2 separate regions of the Homo sapiens genome follow, and region 2 is linked to region 1. Evidence: fine-mapped expression QTL. A gene starts in region 1. The other region holds a variant in brackets. All regions are shown on one strand. Distances are between the middles of the regions.

Evidence for each region. PIP is the estimated chance that this variant, and not a neighbour inherited with it, causes the effect.
Region 2: its variant is fine-mapped to the expression of ATP13A3-DT in tibial nerve (GTEx, PIP above 0.99). The same link has a PIP of 0.9 or more in lymphoblastoid cells.

Annotation. Positions count from the first base shown.
Region 1 is chr3:194,479,595-194,495,067 of GRCh38, reverse strand. ATP13A3-DT (ATP13A3 divergent transcript) reads right to left here and starts at 7,928. Exons shown (of 2, transcript NR_033929.1): 1 at 7,896-7,928; 2 at 6,523-7,612. It overlaps ATP13A3 (ATPase 13A3), which reads left to right and starts at 8,066. Exons shown (of 34, transcript NM_001367549.1): 1 at 8,066-8,502; 2 at 9,233-9,274. RefSeq lists enhancers at 2,783-2,832, 2,873-2,922, 2,933-3,042, 4,794-4,913, 7,047-7,266 and silencers at 7,937-8,596, 8,627-8,676, 8,767-8,826.
Region 2 is chr3:194,509,568-194,525,040 of GRCh38, reverse strand. No RefSeq gene overlaps it. Among named protein-coding and RNA genes, the nearest start is that of ATP13A3-DT, 30 kb to the right of the region's middle. RefSeq lists an enhancer at 3,967-4,261. The variant C/T (reference allele first, on the strand shown) is at 7,435.

The sequences.
Region 1 (15,473 bases):
GATTTGTAGACATCTGACTTAACAGTCCTGCTCTCTGTTCCCATTCCAGTACACACACACACACACACTGGCCTGCATAGGTCAAGCTAAATAGGAACTGAATGGCTTAGGAGGCACTAAAAGAAAGAGAGATAGAGCTTGTTGGGCAAACATCATAATCATAATCAAAGTACTTTCTTTTCTTTTTTTGAGATGGAGTCTCCCTCTGTCGCCCAGGCTGGAGTGCAGTGGCATGATTTCGGCTCACTGCAGCCTCCACCTCCCAGGTTCAAGCAGTTCTCCTGCCTCGGTCTCCCAAGTAGCTGGGATTACAGGCGCCTGCCATCATGCCTGGCTAATTTTTGTATGTTTAGTAGAGACAGGGTTTCGCCATGTTGGCCAGGCTGGTCTCAAACTCCCAACCTCAGGTGATCCACCTGCCTCAGCCTCCCAAAGTGCTGGAATTACAGGCATGAGCCACTGCGCACAGCCTCAAAGTACTTTTAATGGACAGTTTTTCTAGGAAAGGCAATGAGTGCTGTGTTTGTTTTGTTTGCTTGTTTTGCCATTTTTTAATGGCAAAAGGTCTTCATAATCTAAACATGTGACCTCTAACCTTTTGTGGAGGCAGCAGAGGGAATACAAACAAGGGCTGAACTCAGTCAGAGATTCTTAGATAAGACACTCCCTCTTGTGAAGTTGTGAATCTCATTTTTCTTCTCTATAAAAGGAGAATCAAAACAATTCCATTGCTAGTCTGACATCGTGGTTGTGAAAATCAATGTTAACTTGTTCTCCACTTACTCAGCATACTTTCTGACTACCGCTGTGTGCTGTGAGGGGCTGAGGATCCAGATGTGGCTGAGGAAGGTCCTGGCTCATGAGGAGGTGGAAGTCTGGGTGCTTAAACAGATAATCCAGAGTTTTGATGCGAGATGAACTCATTCTGGTGAATCACTCTGGCTTCATTTGGTTATAGTGGTCAAGAGTTTGGCCCTGGAGCAAAGTGTCTGGGTTTGAATCCTGGCTGTGCTTTCGGGTGAGTTATTGAACACCTCTTTTTCCATTCTGTAAAATGGGATTTTTAAGCTTTCCTCAATTTGTAAGCAGAAATAATCTTCCTCAATTTGTAAGCAGAAATAAGCTTTCCTCAATCTGTAAACAGAAATAATAGTACCTCCTTCCTAGAATTGTTATAAAGGTTAATGAGATCATATATGTAAAGTTTCTTCGTCTATGAAAATGAACAGAATAGTCACTACTACTTTTAGTGTTGGCATCGTTGTGATGATTAAATGAGATAACATATGAAAGTATTCAGAACCTTAGGAAAAAAACATGAATAAGGTAGACTCATGGAAAACAAAAACACTAAATAGGTGCTTATTCAAGGTTGTAAATGCAGTGAGACAAATATGCACTAAAGAGGGATTCTTTTTGTTTTGTTTTTTGAGATGGAGTCTTGCCAGGCTGGAGTGCAGTGGCGTGATCTCAGCTCACTGCAAACCTCCACCTCCGGGTTCATGCGATTCTCCCACCTCAGCCTCCTGAGTAGCTGGGATTATAGGTGCCTGACATCACACCTGGCTAATTTTTGTATTTTTGGTAGAGACGGGGTTTCATTATGTTGGCCAGGCTGGTCTCGAACTCCTGACCTCAAGTGATCCACCTGCCTCGGCCTCCCAAAGTGTTGGGATTACAGGGGTGAGCCGTGCGCTCAGCTAAAGAGGGATTCTTAGCCTGGGAGTCAGGGAAGGCATTTAGAGATGATATCTGAGATCGTAAATTCATTCATTCAGTCATCCATCAGGTGCAAACATTTGAGTGTCTATCACATGCCAGGCTTCATCTAGTGCTGGGTCTACAGTGATAAGCCAAACTGACTTATTCTTTACCAGTAGCAGCACAAAGAGATGGTTTGGGTGGGGATGGGGGATTTTTTTTTTTTTTTTTAAGAGCTGAGATCTCACTATGTTGCCCAGGCTGGAGTGCAGTGGCACAATCATAGCTCACCATAAACTCAAACTCCTGCGCTTAGGCAATCCTAGAAATCCTCCCACCTCAGCCTCCCAAGTAGCTGGGACTACAGGCACCTGCCACTGTGCCCGGGTGAGAAGGATATTTTATGTGCCTGTTTCCCATAATCCCAAAAGTCCTTCTCACATTTACAAAAATAAACAACCATTATTTTTTCAATCTTACATAAGTGTCATACAACCACAGCCTTGAGATAAATACAATAACAACACAATAAAAATACTATACATAAAAATATGTTTGCATAGAATTTACATCGTATTATAAGTAATCTAGAGATGATTTAAAGTATAGATCACGGGTTGTGGTGGCTCATGCCTGTAATCCCAGCACTTTTGGAGGCTGAAGCAGGTGGATCACCTGAGGTCAGGAGTTCAAGACCAGCCTGGCCAACATGGTGAAACCCTGTCTCTACTAAAAATACAAAAAATTAGCTGGGCCTGGTGGCGGATGCCTGTAATCCCAGCTACTTGGGAGGCTGAGGCAGGAGAATTGCTTGAACCCAGGAGGCGGAGGTTGCACTAAGCCAAGATCATGCCATTGTACTCCTGGGTGACCCAACGAGACTCTGTCTCAAAAAAAAAAAAAAAAGTACACAGGAGGATGTATATAGGTTATATGCAAATACTATACCCTTTTATCCAAGAAACTTGAGTATTTTTGGATTTTGGTATCCACAGAGGTTCTGAAACCAATTCCCTGTAGATATCGAGGGACAACTGTATATGCATTTAAGCCCAAAGTTGAACTTATAAGTTAGTCAGGCAAGAAAAAAAGGGAAGGGAAAGAATAGATTGTACAAAGACCGTGAGTCAGGAAAGAGGTTGGTGCGTTTGAGGAATTGAAAGAAGGCCTAGTGTAGCTGGAGTAACTTGGGGAAGGGGTCTGCGGTGAGAAGACGGGGAGAGCAGAGGAGTGCCAGTGGAGGGGGAAGTGGTGGGCAGGTTACATCCTGCACTGGACTTTGTGGACCCAAGAAGTTCATCTAGTATTCCAAGTGAGGTGGGAAGCAAGTGAAAGCTTTTATCAGCAGCTCTGCTTGAAGTCACATAAACTAATACTCTGGCTGCTGTGTGATAATGCACTGGAGGTGGGCAAGGGCAAAAGCAGAGGAACCCACTGGGAGCGAATGCACTAGTGCCAGGTGAGAGATGAGGGGGCATGCCAGGTGAGAGATGGAGGAGGCATGCCAGGTGAGAGATGAGGGGACATGCCAGGTGAGAGATGAGGGGGCATGCCAGGTGAGAGATGAGGGGGCATGCCAGGTGAGAGATGGAGGGGACATGCCAGGTCAGAGATGGAGGGGGCATGCCAGGTGAGAGATGGAGGGGACATGCCAGGTGAGAGATGAGGAGGCATGCCAGGTGAGAGATGAGGGGGCATGCCAGGTGAGAGATGGAGGGGACATGCCAGGTCAGAGATGGAGGGGGCATGCCAGGTGAGAGATGGAGGGGACATGCCAGGTGAGAGATGAGGAGGCATGCCAGGTGAGAGATGAGGGGGCATGCCAGGTGAGAGTGGAGGGGACATGCCAGGTGAGAGATGGAGGGGGCGTGCGAGGTGAGAGATGAGGGGGCATGCATTATTCTAGTGGCAGTGAAATGGAGCAATGGGGAAGGATTTGAAATGGACTTGGTGTTGGATTGGATGGGGTGGTGAAGGAGAGGGAGGTGTAAAGAATGACTCCCAGGTTTTGGGCTTCAGCAGTTGTTTGGGTGACAGCGTCTTTGCTAAGGTCAGGAGGCCCAGGAGAGAGGAGCTGATTTGGGGAAGAAAGGCAAGAGTTAAGTTTGGGATAAGTGAACTTATCTGGCACCAGTGAAACCCCATGTGAAAATGATAGGGAGGAATGGCCAAGGGACTCTGAGGAGTGGCCTGGGCTGCAGGCATATGGTTGACATTCTTTTTGAGATAGAGTCTTGCTCTGTCATCCAGGCTGGAGTACAATGGTGCCATCTCAGCTCACTGCAGCCTCTGCCTCCTGGGTTCAAGTGATTCTCCTGCCTCAGCCTCCCAAGTAGCTGGGATTACAGGCGCACGCCACCACGTCTGGCTAATTTATGTATGTTTAGTGGATGGGGTTTCACCATGTTGGCCAGGCTGATCTCAAACTCCCAACCTCAGGTGATCCGCCCGCCTCGGCCTCCCAAATTGCTGGGATTAAAGGCGTGAGCCACCATGCCCAGCCTCAGTTTACAGTTATTAATGTACATGCAGATGACAGCTATAGCCATAGTAGATGAGGCCACCAGGGGAGAGCATGTGGATCAGTCCTCTTATCTTTTTTGGGGGACCCAGACACCTTTGAGAAGCTGCTAAAAGCTCCACTTCTTCCTTTAAAAGTATTTGCATCCAAGTTTAAGGAGCTTATAGATCCTTCTGAAGCCCATCCACAACTCTTGTAAGGTCAAGAGATGTCAAATTAAAAACAAACAAACAAACAAAAACACAACAAACCTTGTGTAGACACAGGAATGGATCCTGGGTTGAGCCTTGGGGAACAGCAACATTTAGAGAAGGACAGAGGAAGCACCTGCGGAGGCTGAGATGGAGTAGACAAAGAGAAACAGGGAGGAGGAATTCCAAAATAGAGTATGTTATCAAAACTAACAGCAAAGTGTCTCAAGGATAGGAGATGCATGCTGCTGAGAGAACTAGAAAGATAAGGCCTGCAAAGTGTCCTCCGGATTTGGCAACAGTAATATTTTGGGGAGGCCTAGCCCCTGGAGTTGGCCTAACAGTGGTCATTTTGTGGAGAGCTAGCTCTGTTAGGAGGAGGCTTTGCCTCTCTGGAGTGGGAAAATAGATCCTGGGGCCGATGTAGGATGATGCGCAGATTTGCGGGTGGGAAGATGAGGATTTTTCCTCTTGATGGTGTATGTTTTCTTAGTGAAATAGGAAGTAAGGGGACAGTGAGAGGGAAGGGCATGCAAAGATGGGGGTTTTGAGGATGAAGAAGATGCAAAATAGCCTTTCTGAGAAGTGACGTCAGACCTTACTGGTATGACTGTTACCTCCATGCAGCTGCAATCAGGGTTGGTGCTTACAGTGAGTAGGATCAGAGGGGGGAAGCAGTGGGCTTGGACCCAGAATCATCATGACTTGAGAACCAGTAAGTCTTCCAGGACTTCTCCAGACTGTTCCACTCCCTTTCTCTCGCCTATCTTGGGTTTCTCCTTTTTTCTTGCACCTTCTTTTCCCTCAACCCATAAACATGCTCAAGCCTTTCCTGGTGACTCAGCACTTCCTCTAAAGCCAGTGTCCAAATTCCTTTTTTCACCATTCTCAAAACATCTGTAACAGAAAAGTTTTTGGAATATCCAACTGCTTTTCTCTTTTTCCTATAGCTTTCCCTTGACTGGCTGTATGTTGCCTTACTTTGGCTGCACCTCGAATTCTGGGGCTCTTTGTGATCTTTTAAAAGCCCGAACGCGTTGACAGGTTCATGCTGGGTAGCTTGGAGGTATACACTGCAGCCAGAAGCCTAGGGAAACTCTTAGGATTTTAAATGGAGTGCATTGTAGTTCACTCTGAAGGCTGAATTTGTCTAACAATTCAGGCTGGAAAGGATGGATGCCAGTGGGAACCACCGTAGGAATTTTTTTTTTTAGATGGAGTTTTGCTCTTCTTGGCCAGAGTGGAGTGCAATGGCGCAATCTCAGCCCACTGCAACCTCCATCTCCCAGGTTCAAGCGATTCTCCTGCCTCAGCCTCCCAAGTAGCTGGGATTACAGGCATGTGCCACCACGTCCAGCTAATTTTGTATTTTTAGTAGAGATGAGGTTTCACCATGTTGTCAGGCTGGTCTTGAACTCCTGACCTCGTGTGATCCACCAGCCTCGGCCTCCCAAAGTGCTGGGATTACAGGCATGAGCCACTGCGCCCAGCCCACCATAGGAATTTGAGGCTTATTAAGGAGGTGAAATAGATAGGACTTGGTGATTGGGTAAGGCAGAGGGCTGAATTAAGAATGACTCACTCATTCCCAACTTTCTAATTCTGATGACTGTGGAGATGGTGGTGCCAACAGCTGAGGGAGGGGCAGCTATGAAAGCAGAGAATGAGTTCAGTTTTGGAAATGTCCAGTTTGGGGTGTCTGTGATATCTAGCTAGAGCTGCCTGGCAGGCAATTGGATATTTGGTTCTAAATTTTGTGGAAGGGGTCTGGGTTGGAAATTGCTAATTTGGGAGCTGCATCCATGAGGATGCAGGCAATCCCAGAAGAATGAGTGAAGTGAGCAAAGTTGTTGGCTTAGAGTGGAATCCTGAATTTAAGGTGCAGATTCACAAGTAGATGTTACCAAGGAGGCAGAGGCTTTACTTACCTTCATGTGATAATCCAGAGGGTTCACTCTTCTGAAACCAAGGTAGTAGAGAGATTCCAGAAGGTGAGAGTCATCCCAAGGTGTCAAATGTAGCAGAAAGAACCAGAGAGATAAGGCCTGAGGAATGCCTGCAAGGTTTGGCAAAATGAAAGTCATGAGTTGCTCTTGCCTGAGCAAGGTGAAGGGTTAGAGTTGGGGAGGAGAAGCCAGAATGCCAAGTGTTGAGAAATGAGGAAGCAGAGGCAGCCAGGGAAGACCATTGTTTGAGGTCCGCATGAAACACTTGGAAGCTAGTTGGAGGGAGCACTTCAGGAGGAGGTTGGCTTGATAATTTTGTTTTTAGGACTTGGAGAGGCCAACCTGTTTAAAGGCTGAGAGGAAGCAGCAAGGCAAGGAAGCCTGGGAGGTGGGGGAGGAAGATTTTAGGGCCAGACCCCACCCAGACCGTTTTCTTGTGGTTTGCCCAACACTACCACACACCCCTTAATCTCATTTAATCATTTCAACACCACGAGGTTTGAAACAAACGGTGAGGTATGAAACAAAACGGTGAGGCCAGGGATTGGGAAGAGAAAGCTGTGGTTCCATCTCGGTCCAGCGTGCTGTCCACGCCAAGAGGCGGGCAGAAATGCTAGCCTCACACAATCTAGGGGACCAGGGGTGGCTGTGGCGCCCTCCTGCCCGCAGGAGGTGTTATCAGTGTCGCGGACTCGGGCGGTGTGCTGCCCCTGGTGAGATGTCATCACGTGCGTGGACCAGGGGTGGCGGCCCTGGTAAGTGTCCAGGGACTAAGGGCTCCCTGCTCTCCAGGTGTGGTGGACGGGGTCCGCATGCATGCCGTCCTCTTCTCTAAGACGCTAAGGCGGCTGAGTTCTGTAAGTAGCGGCAAGAAGAACAGTCACGGAGCGGGCCGGGCACAAAGGGCGCAGGCCAGGTGGCCCCAGGCGGAAAGATGGCCGCAGCCAGAGGCTGCAGGTGGCCGGGCGCGCTCCCTGCGCGCGTCGCGGAGAGGACGCAGCGAAAATCAAACCCGCGATTTGGAAATCCGGCTGCGGCCCTACCCCGAGATAAGTCTTCTGCGGAGGGAAGTATTTAATTTGCATCCAGGACGGTCGGAAGAGGCGCCTTCCCGTCGGAGGCGAGGCGCGGGCGCGTGGGAGCTTTCTCGTGTGCGCTCCTCCCTGTCCTCCGCCTGCGGCCGGGGCGCAGAGTCCGTGGTCATATGAGAATGACAGTTTTTTGTCTGTTTGTTTTGGCGGGGGCGAGGGTGGCTAAAGGAATGAAAGAGCCTTGCATTAGGAGCTGGGCTCTGGTTTCCTCTCCACCATTCTAGCACAAGCTTCCTCCATGACCATGACTCTGGGCAACGTCTGTCTAGTCACTGAGCCTCAGTTTCCCTGTTCATAAAATGGGAGATTGGACTATGATGTTGTCATAGCCCAAAGGGGATGAAGTGGGATTTGCCGTTCCATTTCATCCCACCAGAAAAGCCGCCCTCCATTAGCCACCCCGGGCTGACACCCAGCGTTTTTGGACGGCCTCGCCTCCCCTTACCTGCCTCTTTCTTTCTTTTGCCCGTTCGAGGGTGGCAAAGGCGATGGGTGGGCGGGGCCTATAAATCGCCCCGCCCCTCCCCGCCCCTTCCCCGCCTCCTGACGTCGCCCGCGCCCCTCCGCCCTCCGCGCGGGGATGAAGCCACCACGTGACCTCACATCCGGCGCGGGAGTCCTGAGCCCGCGCGCGCTCCCCCGCCTGCCTGCCGGCTCTCCCCGCAGCGTGATCGGGCGCCGCCGCGGAGGGGAGGGGGGTTCTCTACGTCGCTGGCGGCGGGGGGGCCGTTTCGGAGTGCAGACCGCCCCCCTCCCCTGCCCACCTCCCGCCGCCCTCCCTTGTTCTCGCCCTGCCGGCTGCACGCCGCCGCCGCGGGCGCGGAGGAGGAGGAGAGCGCGGACGTCCCAGGGCCGGCCCGGCCCCGCCGCGGCGCCTCCTTCCCTCACCCTGAGCCGCAGCGCGCGGCGCCGGCCGAGGGCGATGGGGCTGGGCTGAGGCGAGGCGGCGGCGGCGACAGCGGCGGCCGGGTCCCCCGCGGTCCCTGGGGCTGGTCCGGCCGCGAGGGAGGCCGCGGAGGAGGCGGCGCGGCGGCGGCCAGTGAGCGGCCCCGGTGAGCGGGGCGAGGGGCGGGTGGGCAGCGGCGCCGGGGGAGGTCGAGGAGGCGAATGGTGGTGTCGGGGCGGCGGGTACCGGGCGAGGTCGCGGCCAGCCTTCTCGGGCCGGAGTTGGGCATCGCGGGGACGGGGAGTGTCGGGGGCAGGTGAGGCCAGGGCAGGAGCCCACGCGGTGGGTGCGAAGGCCTGGGGGGGACGCGCCGCCTGCCGGGGGCGAGCGTGGGGGCCGGGCGCTTGGTGGTTGGTAGTCAGAGCTTTCGGAAAGTCCTGTGGGAGGTGGAGGTCCTGTGGGCAGAGGCGTAGGGGTGCTGGCAGGGCCCTCGATGAGTCTGTGCGGGACCCTAGCTCGTCCTCAGCCGTGGAGTATGGAGCTGCTTGCCATCTCCGCATTTCACAGATAAAAGGAGTGAGTCCCGTGGAGGAAAAGTGACTTCTGACTTGCCTGAGGCCTCCCACTCGGACTCTGTGGCAGTGAGGACTAGAAAAACCCAGGGCCCTTTGCCCTAGCAGTGCTCTCGTGGCCACTCTCGCTATGGCCTTTCTGTCTCTCCATTCCCTTCACAGAGTCAGGTTCTGGTGGAAGTATGACCTCTGGCTTTTTTGGGGAGGTGAGGGGTAGGGATGAAGGGGGAGGGAATCGGGTTGGGATTGGCAGGAACTCAGCTGGGGGCTTCCCGGTGTGGAAGAAGCTTTGTGACAGGTGTTTATTGTTTCCTCTTCCCATAGATCTGACAGACATCCCTGAATCTTGGTGTTTGGACATAGGAGGTATGAATCACTCACATAATTAGCCGCTTTTAATCATCAGTGTCTTAGAGCTATATTTAGTGGTTATATTAGTGCAAAATGAATGGGTGTGGAGTCGTACACCTAGAAACAGACTTGTGTTCCTCTATACGATTCTAACTAAATGAGTAGAACATACCTGGGTATGTCATGGCTACTTTAGATCTATGAGGCAGGAAGTTAGAATTTAAGGAATCTAAGAAATGCAGGGACTTGAAAGATTATTGCAAAATAAAGCCTTTAAAAAGTATCGTTGTTAAAATGAAAGTGTTTCGATTTGATTCCTTTGAAGGGTGAGTACGTAATGAACAGTGCTCTATCTTTGGTTAGAGCTCAGCCTCTTTACCAAGGTACATGTATTAATTTTGTTTCACTGGAATATATGTGACATTATTTTCTCTAGAGGTTTGTTGCTTTGCTTAATAGACTACAGTTGCCAAAAATCAATGTGTGTGGGCATCTCATCCTGGTTTGCAACCCCTTTAAGGCAAATCAGTGCTTGGAAGTTGTTCGAAGTAGTAAACCTATTATTAATGATTGTTGTAGAACATAACTTTTGCTGGTATCTTTGATTTGCATTATCCTACCATTAGATCAGGCAGAGAGTGAAATAATTGAGATTTTGAGCCTTGTTAGAACAACAATGCCTGGCTTTGGTCAGGGGATTGGGTAGGAAAAGTGACACTATTTGGTTGCTTTAAATTTTTTTTTTTTTTTTTGAGATGGCATCTTGCTCTGTTGCCCAGGCTGGAGTGCAGTGGTGTGAACTCGGCTCACTGTAACTTCTGCCTCCTGGGTTTCAGCGATTCTCCTGTCGCAGCCTCCTAAGTAGCTGGGATTTCAGGTGTGTGCCACCACGCCCAGCTAATTTTTTGTATTTTTAGTAGAGACAGGGTTTCACCACGTTGGCCAGGCTGGTCGTGAACTACTGACTTCAGGTGATCTTCCTGCCTAGGCCTCCCAAAGTGCTGGTATTACAGGCGCTAGCCACCGAGCTTGGCGGTTGATACTTACATAGTTAGTTTAGGTCACCAAATATACAACACACAGAATCCGCTTTGGATAAACCACATTATCGAGCTCATTTTGAAATCCTATTTCTGTCTTCAAGATTTTCGAGATTATAAACCACTTTGTTGTCATTCACAAGTATAAAGTTCTTATTTCCAACATCACTGAGACTGAGAAAAAAGACAGAATAAAGATAAAGTTCCATAGGGCGTCCCCATCACTGCTTATTCTCACTGAGTTTGACCATTGAGTAGGTTGTATATCCATAGTAATATGATATAGTGCCTATGTCCTAAGATTACTATTTATCTTAGGAATAAAGCATATTCATATTCTAAAACCTCATATTCACAGTAGTTACAAAACCACCACGTTATACAAGCATAGTTTGATTCAATATATGGAATGGAAGAAGGAAAGAAACCATTATGTGCCAGGAAAAGTGCTCCTTTCTTTACATATGGTCTCAACTAATCCTCAACACTTTCAGGTAACAATATTCTTCTTTGTTAAAAAAAAAATTAAAGAAGTTAAGGAGCTTACAGTATAAGCGACTTTGAAGACAGACAGAAACCTAGCTCTGTGTTAATGTGCTTAACACAGAGGTTTCTGTCTCTGGGTTTATAAGGTTAGTTGTATGTGACTAGGCAACATAACATCTCTGAACCTCAGATTCTGGTGATAAATCAGATATGTCATCTTAATAGGTGTCACACACTAGATCACCTTCTTTTAGCACACAACTGTGAACTGTTTTGACTGTTTTCTTTGATAGGTGATAAGCTGCCAACTCCTATTCCATTTATCATCCATTCAAATATAGCTCAGTTTAACTCTTAGATATGTTGTACTCATCCTTTTCTCCCTTCTCTCTCCCTCCTTAGAATCACATTTCTTATTTTTTAAAGTTTTAAAAACATTTTTTAATACTGCTTCTTGCAGAACAGGGCTGCTCGATAGGCAGTGTGCCTGGAGTAGCCAGAAGAAATTAGAAATTAAATTTCTTCTTGGTGTTACCTCTGAATGTATTCTGAATATGCCATATCTCATCTGGATCCAAGAGGTAGCTGATGGGATTTAGCCTTGGTTTTGGAACATAGTTTTTGTGAAAATGAAGCTAATTGGCCTATGGAGAGAGTAAATCTGTAGTCGTCAAAACCATGTTGAGTTTTTTTGAGATAGGGTCTTGCTCTGTCTCCCAGGCTGGAGTGCAGTGGCTCTGTCATGGCTCACTGCAGCCTTGACCTTCTGGGCTCAAGCAGTCCTCCCACCTCAGCTTCCAGAGTAGCTGGGACCACAGGTGTGCACCATCACACCCAGCTAGTTTTTTTTTTTTTTGTAGAGGTGGGTTTTCACCGTGTTGCCCAGGCTGGTCTCAAACTCCTGAACTGAAGCAGTCTGCCTGCCTTGGCCTCCCAAAGTGTTAGGGTTACAGGCATTTATCACTGCACCCCGTCCTTTTTTCTTTTTTTTTCCCCCCAGAGAAAGAGTCTCGCTCTCTCACTCAGGCTAGAGTGTAGTGGCACGATCATGGCTCACTGCAGCCTTGAGTTCCTGGGCTCAGGCGACCTTCCTGCCTCAGCAACAAGGGTAGTTGGGACAACGGGTGTGTGCCATCATGTCTGGCTAATTTAAAAAAAAATTTTTTTTTTTTTTTTGAGACGGAGTCTTGTACTGTCATCCTGGCTGGAGTGCAGAGGCGCGATCTCCGCTCACTGCAACTTCCGCCTCCTGGGTTCAAGCGATTCTCCTGCCTCAGCTTTCCGAGTAGCTGGGATTACAGGTGCCCACCACCATGCCTGGCTAATTTTTTGTATCTTTAGTAGAGACTGGGTTTCACCATGTTGACCAGTCTGATCTTGAACTCCTGACCTTGTGATCCGCCTGCCTCGGCCTTCCAGACTGCTGGGATTACAGGCGTGAGCCACCACGCCCGGCCTTTAAAATTTTTTTGTAGAGATGAGTATCTCGGTTTGTTGCCCAGGCTTGTCTCAGAACTCCTGGCCTCAAGTGATCCTCCTGCCTCAGCCTCCCAAAGTGTAGGAATTACAGACATGAGCCACCTTGCCCAGCCAAAACCATGTTCTAATTAACCACTTAAGTTCAAATAGCATGCAAGAAGCAAGGAAATTGTTAGGTTCTCGTTTGAGTTTTGTTGAACATCATATTTTGAGAGTAGAGAAGTAAGAGAGGCTCAGATTTCTGGCACATAATTTTAATTAAGATTTAGGTTTAAAAAAATGAAAAAGTTCTGGGCTCAAATTAATCTGGAGAAAAGTAGATATTTGTAAGGTAGAAGAAGGTCCACAGTTAATCAGTTATCACTAGATAACTAGTGATTATAAAAGGAGTTAAAACGATTTGTGTTAGTAGGTTATGCACAGTGACTCATGCTTGAAATCCCAGTGCTTTGGGAGGCCAAGGCAGGAGGATGGCTTGAGGCCAGGAGTTTGAGACCAGCCTGAGTGACAAAGCAAGACTTTGTCTTAAAACAACCAAAAATAATTTGTATTAATCAGGTTAAAAATAGAGGTAAAATGAGATGACATGAGTAAATGGTAATTGGAAAAAATGATCACTGTTATGATAGTTTAAAAAATGACTTTATGGTAATCAGTAAGAAGGGAGAAAAACGGAATAAAGGAGAGAACTGTCCAAATAAGTGTCTGACACTGAGGAAGGTTGTTTGAGGATGGTGATTGCTGAAAAGTTTCCATAAAATGATTCTCTAGAGGGAACTATGCCAATACCATATCTGTTAACATCTTAGACCCACAGGGTCATATTGGAACCTTTGCTAGAGTCTGAGATGGTAAAACATTAACTCGAATAGTAAACGTCAAGACCGCAAAATTAATCTGTTAATCAGAATTTTGTCTTTTTTGTTGATTCTTACACTTACTCCCTGTGGATCTTGGTTTTAAATGATCAATTGACACTCAGAGACTAGTTAGATAAGAAATTAAATTTCCAGAAAAAGTCACTTAAGTATGTAAAGTAGAATTTCCTAATTATGTGGTCTGGAAATTGCTGATGTCTACAGAATCTTTCTCAAGTTTGAAGTAAAAATACTTGTAACTGATGTTGGGTGGTAAGGTGAAAGATGGTTCTAGCTCAGTGAGTTTTTCTTATTTTTTTTTCACAAAGGAGTTGAACATTGAAATAAAGAGGTGTGAGACTGGAAAATAATGCGGAGAGATCATGGATTATTTAGATTAGTGCCTTTTTAGAGAAGAGGAAAGTGAAGTAAGTGACAGCATAAAGGATCCTTTATGGTCTAACCCCAGATCCTTTCTCTAGCTTGGGTGTTCCTTTCACCCTTGCTTTAATTTTGTACTCTGTAGTAATGGCACATCTCAAAACTTTTGCATTTTTTTTTTCCAGTGAGAGCCAACTTTTAAGGGTTGCCTTTGCTTGCTTGACAGACTTCTTGAAACAAACTATTTTTAGTTTGTTTAAAATGAGTCATGGAATTGCTCCCACATATGTGTCTAAGGGTGGTTTCTTCATAGCATCCCTGTTGCTCTGTTTTTTTTTTTTTCCATTTGTGAAATAGGATGAAATATATTTTAGTTATTTATTTTGATATAAAAGACAAGTGTTTTGGGTCCTGATTTTTTTCTGATTGATCTAAAGAGCTGAATAAAGTGCAATCACTGCTCATGGGGCCTTTGGGCCTAAATTCTCAGATAAAAATCCTGTGTAGTCAAAATTACCCTTGGAAAAAGTCTTTTAAAAAGGCACCAGTTTGAAAACTGGTTGGAAACTGACATTCTGTCTTTCAATTCTAGTGTCCAGTTTTTCCTGTAGTTTTAGAGAGGTCCCTTTTTTGGTGAGCTGGAATCCTCACCAGCTGTGTGAGACCGTTTTGACAGGTGAATGGGTCTTAGATTGACTGAGCATAGCGGATTTATAGTCTTCATTTCATGCTCACTCTGGGACAGGGATGTAAAGGAAGGCATACTATCATCATTATTCAAATTATTTTTCTCTGTTGCTTCCCCCCAGAGTGTAAGTAGTTGAATTGGTTTTAATTAAGTGCATATATGATGTGACTCCACAGTGTGAATAATGGAGAAATAACTTAGGTATTTATGAACATCTGCTATCTCCGTAAGGTTATGCCACAAAAAGATCTAGTATAATTAAAAGGCTAGGTAATAAAGTTGAGAATATTAGGAGATTATTGGTACTGTCTGTCATTCTGAGGGGATACTCAACTACTTTGAGTGTTTTTGTTTTGTTTTTTTAAAGAATAAATTTATTCCTTACTGCTAGCAAGATCTGCATTGTTTTAAAAGAGCGATGTAAATTATTAATGGATTCCATGAAATTTAAAGTATCTAAACTTAAGTATTACTCTGGGGATAGCACAGTAAGAAAACATGAGTATGTAAAAACATGATGGTGGCTAAAAACTTAACAGTCTTATGTCCTGGGAGAGGGCATGGTGTATTGGATAAAAATGTGGGCTTCAGAGCCATAGTGATTTTGAATTACAGCTCTGTCACATACCAGTCTTGTAGTCTGGGTTAAGTAAGTCACTGAACCTCTGAGAGCTTTTTTATTTGCCAGATAGAGGTGATAAAGGGTACCTTAGAGAATTGTAAGGATAAGAGTCTGAGTGAAGGGTAACTTATTATTTGTTAACTTAGTAACATTGAAGATATTCAAAACAAGTCAGATGTGTGTGTGGGGTGTGATTGATGATTGCTCTTTGTTTTTTTGTTAACTGGAACAGCAGGCAATAATGTTATATTCAGGCTTTTTATGTCCAAAACAATCTATGATTTTGTATCTTTAGTAGCAACATCCTCAAAAGCTCAAGATGTTAACCTCATGTATCTCCGATATACATTTTATGTATATTTTAGTTTTTCTCTTTGTGTCTCTGGTGTGTTTGCAGTCTGTTTTCTCTCCCATCTTGTTACTGTTACCCAATGTCTCTGTCTCTGACCACCTTATAAAATTTAAAACTATCTGTAATTGTATTTATTTTATAGGACTTTATATGCATTATTTTCATTTAAAAATTCTGATTAGTCAAATATTTCTACTTTTTTTTTAAAGAAGACTTTGAATTATATTTCAATTTTGTGACCTTTAGATTTCTTTAAACATGGAATCCTAGTCACTGGTTCCTTATAGACCGAAGATTTTTCTTTTTTTT
Region 2 (15,473 bases), 30 kb before region 1:
AAATCTACGGGATTCAGTCTCCACTTGTATATCATCTGACACAGAGCTGAAGGTGGAGGAGAAAGGTTAACCCTTCTCATTCCCTTCCCCACCCCACATACAGTTGGCCTTTTCTGGTCAGGTTTCCGAGGCAGTAAGCATTTTTTTGAGCGCCTACAATGTGCCAGACACTGTTCTGGGCACCTGGGTAGAAAGAAAGATCTTGAAGACTCTTGCCCTGTAGGGAAGTTTATAGCTTGGGGAACAGTGGAGGAAGAACAGAAAAAAAATCACACTAATATTTAATTACTTAAAAAAATTGTTTTTTCAAGGCTGGGTGCGGTGGCTCATGCCTGTAATCCCAGCGCTTTGGGAGGCCAAGGCTGGCAGATCACCTGAGGTCAGGAGTTTGAGACCAGCCTGGCCAACGTGGTGAAACCCCGTCTCTACTAAAAATACAAAAATCAGCCGGGCATGGTCGCATGCACCTGTAATTCCAGATACTCGGGAGGCTGAGATAGGAGAATCGCTTGAACCCAGGAGGTGGAGCTTGCAGTGAGCCGAGTTTGCGCCACGTCACTCCAGCCTGGGTGACAGAGCAAGACTCTGTCTCAAAAAAAAAAAAAGTTTTTAAAACAGAGGCAGGGTCTTGCTATGTCGCCCAGACTGGTCGCCAACTCCTGGACTCGAGTGATCCTCCCGCCTTGGCCTCCCAAAGTGCTGGGATTACAGGCCTGAGCCACTGTGCCTGGTTCAAATCACACCAATAAAAGGGGTCAAAGGATGTGTTCAAATAGACTTGTGGAAAAGCTGAGGCAAAAAGAGGAGGTACTAATTTTGCCTGGAGGCAGAACTAGAAAAGAGCCCTGAAAAATGGGGAGGAGGGGCAAGATTCAGGAAGTATTCCAGGCGGGGAAGCTTCTTTTTCCCCTTTTAGCCATAGGAAGATAGAATTCCTGGGTCCCTCTTCCTGCCTCCACTAGTCTTGTCACCTGAGTTCCATACCAGCTATTTCAAAAAGAGAAAAGGCCCAAGGGTGTACAACCTTCCCTCCAGCAATAAGTAAAGGTGGTTACTATGTGCGAGGAGCTCTGCCAAGCATTGCCCAACTGTTACCTTTAATTCATACAACGGAACGGTGGTGTGTACTGTCACCATTTTCCTGAGAAAATTGGGTTTCAGAGCTAGAACTTGTCTCTTGTCACACAGTTATGGAGTGGCTAAGCCAGAACTGAAGCCGAGTCGACCTGACTTCAAAATTCACCTTCTGGCCAGGCATGGCGGCTCACACCTGTAATCCATCCCAGCACTTTGGGTGGCCTAGGCAGGGGAATCACTTGAGTCCAGGAGTTTGAGACTAGACCGGGCAACATGGCGAGACCCTGTCTCTACAAAAAAATGGAAAACTTAGCTGGGCATGGTAGCGCGAACCTGTAGTCCCAGCTATTCAGGAGTTGGGAAGATCTCTTGAGCCTGGGAGGTTGAGGCTGCAGTAAGCTGAGATGGCACCGTTGCACTGCAGCCCAGGTAGTCTGGGCACCACAGCAAGACCCTGTGTCCAAAAAAAAAGAGAGAGAAAGTCTTTATTTTGTTTGTTTAGCTTTTCTGTGGCTTCAGTCTTTAGTTTCCTTTTTGTTTATTTATTTATTTATTTATTTCACTATGGAAAATTTCTAACATAAAAGGAGACAGAATGGTATCATAAACTTCCACGATTCTATCACCTAGGTTCAATAATTAAGAATTCGGCCAGGCGCAGTGGCTCACACCTGTAATCCCTGCACTTTGGGAGGCCAAGGTGGGCAGATCACCTGAGGTCAGGAGTTCGAGACCAGCTTGGCCAACATGGTGAAACCCCGTCTCTACTAAAAACAAAAAATTAGCCAGGTGTGGTAGCACACGCCTGTAGTCCCAGCTACTTGGGAGGGTGAGGCAGGAGAATTGCTTGAGCCCGGGAGGCAGAGGTTGCAGTGAGCCGAGATCGCACCACTGCACCCCAGCCTGGGTGACAGAGCGAGATTCCATCTCAAAAAAAAAAAAAAAAAAAAAAAAGAATTCATGGCTAATCTTATTTTATGACTAATCCCTTCCTGGATTATTCTGAAGCAAATCATATCATGGCATCATTTTCACCCATAGACTTCAGTATGCCTCTTGGATCCCTTTTACTTGATAAGTTCCTCCTGCTTGTAATGTATTTGTTGAAGAAGCTGGGTCATTTATCTCATGGAATTTCTCACCATCTGAGTTTTGGCGACTGCATTCAGCAGTATCATTTAACACGTTCCCTGTCCTTGGCATTTCCTGTAAACTAGTAGTTGGATTTAGAGTAGTGACCAGACAGGTTAGTGATTTTTGGCAAGACTACTTCATGACTGTTTCTCATCGGGAGGCACTCATGTATTTGTCTTTTGACCGTCATTGATGATCAAAGTCCAGGCCTGTTAATTTACTAAAGATGGCAAAATGGTGATATTGTAATCCTTCTAGTCTTTCTCTGTTTAATAGCTGTAATACATCCAAAAAAGGTTTCCCTGATCGTCTATGCAGTTAACATAAGCTATATTTGTCACTGGAAAGGTAATATAAATGCTTCTCTCTCTTTATTTGCCAATTTTCAAAATAACAAATGGATCCCTAGCACCCACCAAAAGTGACCAATAGATTTAATTTTTAAAAAGCATGAATTCATGGTTTTAAACATTTGATGAGCTTCAATTCATCACAGTTATAATTCTTATTGATGCTCAGATTATCTTATTCTTTGGTTAGTGGGGGCCTCTTCAAGTTGACTGAGTCTGTTTTTTTGTTTTTGTTTTTGTTTTTTTTTTAAGGGAGGGGGTTACTATGTTGCCCAGTCTGGACTGGAACTCCTGGGCTCAAGCCATCCTCCAGCCTCATGCTCCTGCCTCATCCTCCTGAGTAGCTAGGACTATAGGCAACTAAGTCTTTGTGATATTTTCTTTTTTTTAAACAGGGTATCGTTCTGTCACACAGGCTGGAATGCAGTGGTGCAATCATGGCTCAAGGGACCCTCAAACTCCTGGTATCAAGCGATCCTCCTGCCTCAGGCTGCAGAGTAGCTGAGACCATAGGTGCATGTTACCATGCCTGGTTAATTTTTCAATTTTTTGTAGAAATGGGGGTCTCACTATATTTCAGACTGGTTTCAGACTCCTGGGCTCAAGCAATCTGCCCTCCTTAGCCTCCCAAAGTGCTGGGATTATAGGCATGAGCCACTGCAATAATTTTGGTGATTGCAACCAGCAGTATGATTTAACATGTTCTCTGTCCTTGACATTTCCTGTAAACTAGAAGTTGGATTTAGAGTAGTTGATCAGATTTAGGTTAGGGATTTTGGCAAGACTACTTCATGACTAATGTTTTTCATCAGGAGGCACATAATATCTGGTATTTGCCTTGTGAAATCACCCTATTGTTCTTGATAAATGCTTGATTATCAGGTGTATAATATGATGTTCCAGGCTCATCTTGTACATTTCTTTCCCAGGAGCCCAGATCTGGAATCAGCCATTTTTCTAAGGAGCCCTGCTTTCTTTTAGTAAATGGCATTTAGAGATCATATTCTGTGTGCAAGAAATGCTTGCTTTTGAATTGATGATGGTTTCTAGAAAGAATTTTTTACAAGCAAATACTTTATGGATTCTTACTAATAGTTCTATTTCAAATTTAGGTAAGACTAAAGTGTTTCTACTTAACTTTATTGATCTTATATCCATACCTGGGATGTAAAACATCCCACTTTTCAAAACAACATAATTACTCATTGCTTTATCCTATAATACATGCAAAACAGTCTTACCAACTGTATTAGTCCATTTTCATGCTGCTGATAAAGACATATGCAAGACTGGAAAGAAAAAAAGGTTTAATGAACTTACAGTCCCACATGGCTGGGACGGCCTCACAATCATTGTGGAAGGCAAGGAGGAGTAAGTCACATCTTACATGAATGGCAGCAGGCAAGAGAGACAGCTTGTACAGGGAAACTCCCACTTTTAAAACGATCAGCTCTTGTGAGACTCATTTACCATCATGAGAACCGCACAGGAAAGACCTGCCCCCATAATTCGATCACCTCCCACTGGGTTCCTCCAATGACACACAGGAGTTGTGGGAGTTACAATTCAAAATGAGATTTCGGTGGGGACACAGCCAAACCATATCATCCCGCCTCTGGCCCCTCCCAAATCTCATGTTCTCACGTTTCAAAACCAGTCATGCCTTCCCAACAGTCTCCCAAAGTCTTAACTCATTTCAGCATTAACTCAAAAGTCCACAGTCCAAAGTCTCATCTGAGACAAGGCACATTCCTTTCGCCTAGGAGCTTGTAAGATCAAAAGCAAGTTAGTTACTTCCCAGATACAATGGGGGTACAGGTATCGGGTAAATACAGCCATTCCAAATGGGAGAAATTGGCCAAAACAAAGGCGCTCTGGTCCCCATACAAATCAGAAATCCAGCAGGGCAGTTAAGTCTTAAATCTCCAAAATGATCTCCTTTGACTCCATGTCTCGCATCCGGGTCACGCTGATGCAAGAAGTGGGTTCCCATGGTCTTGGGCAGCTCAGCCCCTGTGGCTTTGCAGGGTACACCCTCCCTTCTGGCTGCTTTCATGGGCTGGTGTTGAGTGTCTGCCGATTTTCCAGGCACATGTGCAAGCTGTCGGTGGATCTACCATTCTGGGGTCTGGAGGACAGTGGCCCTCTTCTCACAGCTCCACTAGGTGGTGCCCCAGTTGGGACTCTGTGTGGGGACTCCAACTCCACATTTCCTTTCCACACTGTCCCAGCAGAGGTTCTCCATGAGGGCCCTGTCCCTGCAGCAAACTTCCTGGATATCCAGGCGTTTCCATACATCCTCTGAAATCTAGGCAGAGGTTCCCAAGCCTCAGTTCTTGACTTCTGTGCACCCACAGGTTGAATTCCACATAGAAGCTTCCAAGGCTTGAGGCTTGCACCCTCTGCAGCCACGGCCCGAGCTGTACCTTGGGCCCTTTTAATCATGGCTGGAGTAGCTGGGATGCAGGGCACCAAGTCCCTAGGCTGCACACAGCACGGAGACCCTGGGCCTGGCCCAAGAAACCATTTTTTTCCTCCTAGGCCTCTGGTCCCGTGATGGGAGGGGCTGCCATGAAGACCTCTGAAATGCCCTGGAGACATTTTCCCCATTGTCTTGGAGATTAATATTTGGGTCCCCATTTCTTATGCAAATTTCTGCAGCCAGCTTGAATTTCTCCTCAGAAAATAGAATTTTCTTTTCTATTACATTGTCAGGCTGCAAGTTTCTGAACTTTTATGCTCTGCTTCCCTTATAAAACTGAATGTGTTTAAGAACGCCCAAGTCACCTCTTGAATACTTTGTTGCTTAGACATTTCTTCCACCAGATACTCTAAATCATCTCTCTCAAGTTCAAAGTTCTGCAAATCTCTAAGGCAGGAGCAAAATGCCACCAGTCTCTTTGCTAAAACATAACAAGGGTCACCTTTGTTCCAGTTCCCAACAAGTTCCTCATCTCCATCTGAGACCACCTCAGCCTGGACCTTATTGTTCATATCACTATCAGCATTTTTGTCAAAGCCATTCAACAAGTCTCTAGGAAGTTCCAAACTTTCCCACATTTTCCTGTCTTCTTCTGAGCCCTCCAAACTGTTCCAGCCTCTGCCTGATAACCCAGTTCCAAAGTCGCTTCCACATTTTTGGGTATCTTTTCAGCAGCACCCCACTTTATTGGTACCAATTTACTGTATGAGTTTATTTTCATGCTGCTGATGAAGACATACCCGAGACTGGGAAGAAAAAGAGGTTTAATGGACTTACAGTTCCACATGGCTGGGGAGGCCTCACGATCACAGCGGAAGGCAAGGAGGAACAAGTCACATCTTACATAGATGGTGGCAGGCAAGAGAGGGAGGTTGTGCGGGGAAACCGTTTTTAAAATCATCAGATCTTGTCATTCACTATCATGGGAACAGCGCAGGAAAGACCCACACCCATAATTCAATCACCTCCCACTGGGTTCCTCTCATGACATGTGGGAATTGTGGGAGTTACAATTCAAGATGATGTCGGGGTGGGGACACAGCCAAACCATATCACCAACACGACCACATTTCTCATTTCATTACTAAAAATGGTTTCAGATATTTTACAAGGTTTTTTGGTTTGGTTGGACTGGGTTTAAGTTTGGTCATTAGGGGATCTCCCATTAGGAATATACAGTGGAATTCCTGAGTGTTAAGGTCATTTGCAATAGTTTCTCACTGTGTAGTTACACCATCAACTCAACAGATTGACTTGTTTCATTTTGTCAAGTCTAATTTGGTTTTATACTTTTCTAAAGTACTATATCCACAAACTTCCAACATAAATCTATAAAACAAGATATATTTAGAAAAGTCTAGCTTCTATCCCAATCCTCTCACTTTATTTCCTCTCTCCTCCTATGTGATGTATGGTATATTCATATTCCCCTCTCCAATGATAGCATATTATCAGAATTTTCTTCACCTGGCTTTTTACTCATTAGGTTATATTCTGGTGATCACAACATATAACATAGAAATATGCCTCATTTCCTTTCAAAGCTGCATGGCACTCCATTATGTGTAGGTATCTTAGTTTATTTACTCCGTTCCCTATTGATGGGCATTGAGTTATTTCCAGTCTTTTGCTACTACCAATGTTTCTGTAATAAATAGCCTTATGTATATTAATTTTTGAATTTTTGACTGTGTGCCGTTTTTATTTTTATTTTTTTTAGAGATAGGGTCTTCCTATGTTGCCCAGGCTGGTCTTGAGCTCCTGAGCCCAAGAGATTCTTCCACTTTAGCCTCCCAGAGTGTTAGGATCGCAGGCATGAGCGACCACATCCAGCTGAAAGTGTGTCTTTAGGATGGATTCGTAGAAGTGAGATTTCTAGGTCAAAAGGTAAATGTCTATCTAAAATTGCTGGATATTGCTGCATTGCTCAAGAAACTTATTCTGTTGTGGAAGGAATTATAATGAAGGGATTAGGAAGTGGAGGAAGAAAACTGAGACCTCCCTGAAGGGCTGACATCAACCTCCCTATAGGAAGGACCCACCTTGACAGGTGGTTTGTTCACATGCGGCTGAGAAGATTAGGGTGCTTTTCACCCTTCCCAAATCCTCACTGAAAGGAGGTGGTGCCACTCCTCACCCTGAACCTGTTGCCATGCGCTGCCTCACCAGCTCCTTAAAAGGAAGGCAGTGGTTAATGTTAAAGCAAAATGAATAAGCCTCATAAACTAAAAAGTGGAAAATAACCTAGCAACTTATTACCATCCAATTTCAGTCAGTTCACTCCCTCAGGAAAGCAAATTGCAATCAGGAGATGGTGCCATGCAACCTGCAGCAGCGCGTTTGCAGAGGACAACCCAGGGTCGAATGGGCCATCTCCCTTAGCTGGAAAGA[C/T]GGCAGGCCACGTTTCTCAGCACTGTTTTTTTCAGCTTCTGATGACACTGAGGATCTCCTGGAGAGTTCCCTGGCAGCAGAGCAAGGAGTTTTGATTTCTGAGTGTTTCCCTGGAGCAAGGGCCTGCCCTGTTGGCTACAGGCACCGTCTGGTGAAGTGTAGATCTGCCAGGCTCCTTGATATGCTTGTTCCAGCAAACTGATGGCACTATCTCTGATGCCTCCACCAGATTTTGCCACTGTCTACCTTGGATGGTCACCCTGCATGGACAGGCCTGGCTTTGCATACAAGGCTATATATTGTGGGGGACTGGTCAGAGCGGTGGAAAAACTATAGGGAAAGGATGCAAACCTTCTGAAAGGTCAGAAGGTTCTGCAGAGCCTGGGGGGAGAATAGCAGAAAGCAGCTGTTCTATAACCCTGGGGCAGAGGGCAAGGAGTAGGTACAAGGGAGTGTGGGGGAATTTATCTTAAACAGGCTTGTTTACTTATGTTGACCAGGAACTGACTGTTGATCATCCGCGTGCATGATGTTGCCTGAAAAGGGAATGATAAATGTTAATTACCTGCAGGTTGTGTTGGCTCCAGGTTTTCGTCATTGTGCCTGCACTGAATAAAAGCAAGCAGCTCCAGCTCTCGGGCTGCTCTCTGGACACTAGAGCCAGGCAGTCGCCTAGCTGCTCTTACACTGCATACCTCTGTCTGAGTACTCATTTCATCTGTCAGCCAGGGTCTGCGGGACAGACCCAGCAATACATGCCCTGAAGACGGGGGTCCTGTCAGCATCACCTCTGGATCCCCAGGAATGCTGGTGCTGACACCAGGGTTTACCACCAGCTGGTAAAACTAGGGCAGCCTAAAAATGGGAACCCCTTCCAAGCCTTTTGTGAGGATTTACAGATGCAGAGCTGTGGTATGGAGCCCTTCGTAAAGTATCAAGTCAAATACAGATGCTCCTCGACTTAAGTTGGGGTTACGTCCACCGGCCATGGTGGCTCATGCCTGTAATCCCAACTATTAGGGAGGAGGAGGTGGGAGGATAGCTTGAGCCCAGAAGTTCGAGACCTGCCTGGGCAATACAGCAAGACGCCGTTCTCCACAGAAAGGAAAAAAAAAAGACAAAAAAAAAAAAAATAACCAAGCAAGTGTAAGATGGGGTTATATCCCTGTAAACCCATCATCAACTGAAAATATCATTAAGTCAGTCACCATTAACTCAGGGACTGTCTGTACAGGCATTGTTATTATTAGAGTAAGCACTTGATAAATGCTTAACAAACGAGTAAATAAATAGTGGTGTGGAAAAAAAAGAATGATGAGAATAAACGTCCCCGAGGCCAGGCGTGGTGGATCACGCCTATAATCTCAGCACTTTGGGAGACCGAGGTGGACAGATCACTTGAGGTCAGGAGTTCGAAACCAGCCTGGCCAACATGATGAAACCTCATTTCTACTAAAAATACAAAAATTAGCTGGGCATGGTGGTGTGAGCCTCTAGTCCCAGCTACTCGGGAGGTTGAGGCAGGAGAATCACTTGAACCTGGGAGGTGGAGGTTGCAGTGAGCCGAGAACGCACCATTGCACTCCAGCTTAGGTGAAAGAGTGAGACTCTGCCTCAAAAAAAAAAAAAAAAAGAGTAAGTGTCTCAGGAGTTTCAATTAGTGGGGGGGTGGGGGCAGTGAAGTAGAGTGATTGGAGGATGGTTGGGTTTGGACGGATTTGGAGATGTTGGCATATGGGAGTGGGGAACATTTCTAGGAAGGGAAAATTTACATTCGCATTCAGTTTAGCAACAAGCACTGTTTATTTGCAGCAACATTCTGGTCAGAGGAGTCCTCTAAGTAAGTTGGGAGAAACAGTACAAAGGTAACTAAATGATCACTAACACCAATTGTGTCACTTTGTGCTGAGTGACCTCCTTTAATCCTCGTGGCAGCCTCATGAGAGGGTATTATCACACTCAAGTAATAGAGGAGGGACGTGAGACACAGCAAAGCGCATAAACTTACCTGCAGGAGAGCGAGAGACAAACCACTGAAGAGCCTTTAATGCCCAAGTAGGAATTTGAACGACCACAGTCAGAAGGGAGGCACTGAAGAGACTTGAGCACAGGAGTGACATGGTCGTATGGGTGCTTCAGAGAAACGCAGTATTGTATAGCAGCTGGGAGTTTGGAGTTTGGCACCAGACCACTTGGTTCTTCTAAAATCCCAGTTCCGGCCAGGCGCGGTGGCTCACCCCTATAATCCCAGCACTTTGGGAGGCTGAGGCGGGCAGATCACCTGAGGTCAGGAGTTTGAGACCAGCCTGGCCAACATGGCGAAACCCTGTCTCTACTAAAAATACAAAAATTAGCCAGGTGTGGTGGTGTGTGCCTGTAATCCCAGCTACTTGGGAGGCTGAGGCAGGAGAATTGCTTGAACCCAGGAGGTGGAGGCTGCAGTGAGCCGAGATCACATTACTGCACTCCAGCCTGGGCGACAGAGCAAGACTCTGTCTCAATAATAATAATAATAATAATAATAATAAATAAGTTAAATAAATAAAATCCCAGTTCTGCTCCTTGCTTGCTGTGAGATCTTACAAATATTATTTAACTGCACTGAGCCTCAGTTTCTTCATCTATAAAATGCGGGTAATAAAGGCACCCAGCTTATGGGGTCTTTTAGAGGAATAAAGTAACACATGTAGAACACAGCACAGTGATGCCGTGTATGTGTATGACAATTGTAAGTTATCATGAATATGTTAGCTATCTACCGGGTGGCCTGGAGAGAGGTCAGAGGTAGGGGGCAGCAGCAGGCACAGACTGAAGGCAAGGGTGGAATAGAGAGTAAGATATTTTAAAGCAAGCCTCAATAGGAATCATTACTTGCACACGTGGGATAACAAAAATACCTAAGAATGACTCTCAGATTCCCAGTCTTTTCTTTTTTCTTTAAGTATTTGCCCTTTTCTTTTAGTTTCTCAAGATTCCCAATCTTTTTATTTATTATTATTATTTTTTGAGACGGAGCTTCACTCTTATTGCCCAGGCTTGAGTGCAGTGGCACAATCTCGGCTCACTGCAGCCTCTGCCTCCCAGGTTCAAGCGATTCTCCTGCCTCAGCCTACTGAGTAGCTGGGATTACAGGCATGCGCCATCATGCCCTGCTGGTTTGGTATTTTTAGTAGAGATGAGGTTTCATCATGTTGGCCAGGCTGGTCTCGAACTCCTGACCTCAGGGGATCTGCCCACCTCGGCCTCCCAAAGTGCTGGGATTACAGGTGTGAACCACTGCGCGCGGCCAAGATTCCCAATCTTATTCACTGAGAAGAAAAGGGCTTCTGTCCTTCCTGTAGAAGATAGATAGCCATAAAGGGGGGAGAAAAAGAAAAGGATGAGGGGGCTTCTGATAGAAACGCGAAAACTCGGAGAGAAGCTAGCTTTTTGGAGCAAGATCACACTTTGGGAGGATGTGTGTATGTGGGGTGGGGGTTGTCAAAAGGATCCTGGGTTCTATTGCCAGCTCTGCCACCAGTTGGCTGTGTCCCCTTGCCAAAAACCTCTTTCCTTTTCTGGACTTCAGTTTTTAGTCAGTGAAATTAAGCTTTTACACTTGAGATCTTAGAATTCTCTCCCAACTCAGATGTTCTCCAGTTTCACCTGATCACTGTATAGCACTTGAAAGGGAGGATAGTGCTAATAGCCTGGCTCTTAGGAGACTTCTTTGAAAAAAAGAAAAAGAAAGAAAGAAAGAAAAAAAGATTTTTAAAATTTATTTAATTTTAATTTCTTTTCTTTTTTCCTTTTTTGAGACAGAGTCTCACTGTCACTCAGGCTGGAGTGCAGTGATGTGATCTTGGCTCACTGCAACCTCTGCCTCCCAGGCTCAAGTGATCCTTCCACCTCAGCCTCCAGGTATCTGGGACTACAGGTGCACACCACCATGCCTGGCTAATTTTTGTATTTTTTGTAGAGATGGGGTTTTGCCATGTTGCCCAGGCTGGTCTCGAACATCTGAGCTCAAGTGAGCTGCCCACCTTGGCCTCTCAAAATTCTGGGATTATAGGCGAGAGTCACCGCACTCCGCCTGTAAAAGAAAAATTTAAAGTAGAAATGGAGGGGTTTCACTATGTTGCCCAGGCTAGTCTCAAACTCCTGGCCTCAAGTGATCCTCCTGCCTCAGCCTCCCAACACACTGGGATTACAGACACGAGCCATTGTGCCCAGCCCTTTTCTTGAGGTTCAAGGAGAGGTGATGGGAAGAGGCAGCAATATGAGAAGAGGAAACCTCCTTCTTCTTTTTTCCTGCTCCCTTAAATGTTGGACTTCAGGCCCTGCAAGAGACCCCTTGGCCAGGCTCTCCAAAACAACCCCTGCATGGATCCTCCCATCACTCAAGAGATTCTGGGAACTGGTGTCAGAGAAAGCCAAGTGCAATGTTGATTTTATTCAGCTGCACTCTCTTCCACTTGGTTGGTTCCTGACTGGGCTTTTGTTTTTCTACCAGATTAGAGAAGAAAGGAAGGTTGTTTTAAAAAGTTCACTATCCTTAGCAACAGTGAAACCAGAACACTTGGTGGTGGCTGGGGCCCAGCAGAGCCTGTGTTTACCCAGAGGGTGCACTTGGGGGTAGGAGGTGGAGCATCACCTGCCCAGGTGTGTGGCCTGGACGTGGCCTCAGGCAGGTGTTTAGCACCTTCCATTTAGCACAGCCTGAAGGAGAATGGGCACCCAGTCTTCTGGGAAGACCTGTATTTTGAAATAGAGTTTTACATAAAATAAAACAGAATAACCAGGGCTGAAGAATGCACGCGTCGAATGCATACCAACACCTGGAATGACATTTGATCTGAGGAAATGAACCCCTTGGAGGACATTTTTTTTTTCCAAATAAAATGCCAGTTATGTAACACAGCCAAATAGTACCACAGAGACGGTGCCCTCTCTCTCTTGTTTTATTTTTATATTTATTTTATTTTTTAATTTTTGAGGCAAGGTCTCACTCTATTGCTCAGGCTGGAGTGCAATGGTGCATTCATAGCTCACTGCGGCCTCGAACTTCTAGGCTCATGTGATCCTCCTGCCTCAGCCTCTCAAACAGCGGGGACTGCAGGTGCATACCACCATGTCTGGCTAATTACTTTTTTGTAGAGATCTCCCTACATTGCACAGGCTGGTCTCAAACTCCTGGCCTCAAATGATCTGCTGGCCTCAGCCTCCCAAAATGATGGGATGGCAGGTGTGAGCCACCGTACCTGGCCTTCCCGTTTCTTATGAGCTGGCACCTGTGGCTAGACCATTTCCCTCAGGCATTGACAACATGTAGGAATTAAACTAAGGGATTCAAAATTAATTCTAACATTTAGTGACTCATACTTGTTTTAACTTTAATTGGTCCTCAGACTTAATGATAGACGACACATTCACCTTCAACAGGCTTCTTTCAGCTCACACAGAATCAGCATTATCATTTCTGTTAGCAAACATTTATTGGGCATTTTTTTGTTAAATAAGATCTTGTTTGTCTAAAATGTTTTATATACTTTAAAGCACCATGCAAAGATGATACTGTGCTTGGTGGATTCATGGACTCCAAAAATACCATGCTCTGTATTTTACAGGTAGGAAAACTAAGGCCCTGGAAAGGAAGAGACTTACTAATCATCTTTCCCTATTTTATTTGTTTTTGTTTCTTTCTTTTTTCTTTCTAAAAAAATATTTTTTGAGGCCGGGTGTGGTGGCTCACGCCTGTAATCCCAGCACTTTGGGAGGCTGAGGCGGGCAGATCACTTGAGGTCATAAGTTCGAGACCAGCCTGGCCAACATGGTGAAACCCTGTCTCTACTAAAAGCACAAAAACTAGCCAGGCATGGTGGTGAACACCTGTAATCCCAGCTACTTGGGAGGCTGAGGCAGGAGAATTGCTTGAACTCGGGAGGTGGAGGTTGCAGTGAACCAAGATTGCACCACTGTACTTTAGCCTGGGCAACAAAGTGACATTCTATCTCAAAAAAAAAAAAAAAATTTAACCCAGTTCATAACTTTCCCTATTTTAAATGATAGCACCAGGCGCTGATGATTCAAGGAGATGAGAAATGCAAGTAATAGTCTAGCTCTTGAGAGAGGACACTGAGAAATGAAGCCCAGAGTGTCTAATCCCTCATTTGGACTTTACTTGAAGAGCATGTCCTGATGCCTCTGAGGGTGACCTGGTGACACAGGAGCTCAAATCTTCAAAGCAAGTTTGAAGACAGTAGCAAAACCTAAAAGGGAAGAGGGTACAGGAGTGACTGGATACAAAAGAGAATCCATGGCTGCTTGGATCAGATAGTGGGCTGCTGAAGGCAGTGACTGAGATCCTGAAACAAGGTATAGCTCCCAGAGCAGCTGGTATCTGAAGAAACCTAAGTAGCAGGTGCTGGAGAACCACAGTGCAAGGGCGCTGGAGGGATGGCATTATTCATACTCTCAGTCATTTATTCACATTTATTTATTTTTATTGATACACAATGATGTACATATTTGGGGGTTACATGTGATAGTTTATTATTATTATTGAAATGGCATCTCACTCTGTTGCCCAGGCTACAAAGCAGTGGTGCGGTCTCGGCTCACTGCAAGCACTCTGCCTCCCAGGTTCAAGCAATTCTCCCGCCTCGGCCTCCTGAGTTGCTGGGATTACAGGTGCCTGCCACCACACTTGGCTAATTTTTTGTATTTTTAGTACATGTTTGCCGTGTTTGCCAGGCTGGTCTGGAACTCCTGACCGCAGATGATCCACCCACCTCAGCCTCCAAAAGTGCTGGGATTACAAGTGTGAGCCACTGCACCCAGCCATGATAATTTAATACATTCATATAATTTGTAAAGATCAAATCTGTGTAACTGGGCTATCCATTATCTTAAATATTTGTCTTTTCTTTGTGCTAGAAATATTCAAATTATTCTCTTCTAGCTTTTTTTTTTTTTTTTTTGGTGACAAGAGCTCACTATGTTGCCCAGGTTGGAGGGCACTGGCTATTCATAGGTGCTATCCAAGTGCATTAGAGCCTCCAACTCCTAGGCTCAGGCAATCCTCCTGCCTCAGCCTCCCGCGTAGCTAGGACTCCAGATGCATGCCACCACGCCTAGTGTCACTCCCGTTTATGAAGCACTTATTCTGTTTCATGTCACGGGATCCTGGCACAGAGAGCAGGCAGGAGTCCACACAGGCAAGCTGTCGGCATGGGGGATAATCAGGACTAGTGTTAAGCAGGGTAAGGATAGGCTTGGGAGACACATTTACACTTTGTGAGTGGAGCAAGAGTCATTCATTCAATGATAAACATCTTTAAAGTATATTCTATATGCCAGTAAAGTTCTAGACATGGAGAACAGTGGATAAAATGCCCTTGTAGACATTACATTCTAGTGGGGAGGGGGAGATAGACAATCAATAAACTACCATCTATAATATGGCAGATGGTGATTCATGCTATGGAAAAAAAAACAACAGATCAGGACAGGGGGATAAAGCGTGCCAAGGGGAAGGGATTTCAACTGTAGGCCTCAGTGAGGAGGGGATGTTTAAACAAAGACCTGAAAAAGGTAAGGAAGCAAAAGCCATAGGGCTACTGGTAGAGGCAGAGGGCACAGCAAGTGCAAAGGCCCTGAGGTGGGAGTGTGCCTGGTGCACGCACACTTGCAATGAAAAGTCACTAGTGAGGCTGGGTGCGTGGCTTGCGCTTGTAATCCCAGCACTTTGGGAGGCTGAGGCAGGCAGATTGCTTGAGCCCAGGAGTTTGAGACCAGCCTGGGCAATATGGTGAAACCCCATCTCTACAAAAAAAAAAAAAAAAAAAAAAAAAAAGTATATATATATATATATAAAATTAGCCAGGTGTGGTGTCATGCACTTGTAGTCCCAGCTACTCGGGAGGCTCAGGTGGGAGGATCGCTGGAGCCCAGGAAGTCAAGGCTGCAGTGACCCACGATTGCACTACTGCACTCCAGCCTGGGCAACAGAGCATGACTCTGTCTCAAGGCAAAAAAAAAAAGGCCGGGTGAAGTGGCAG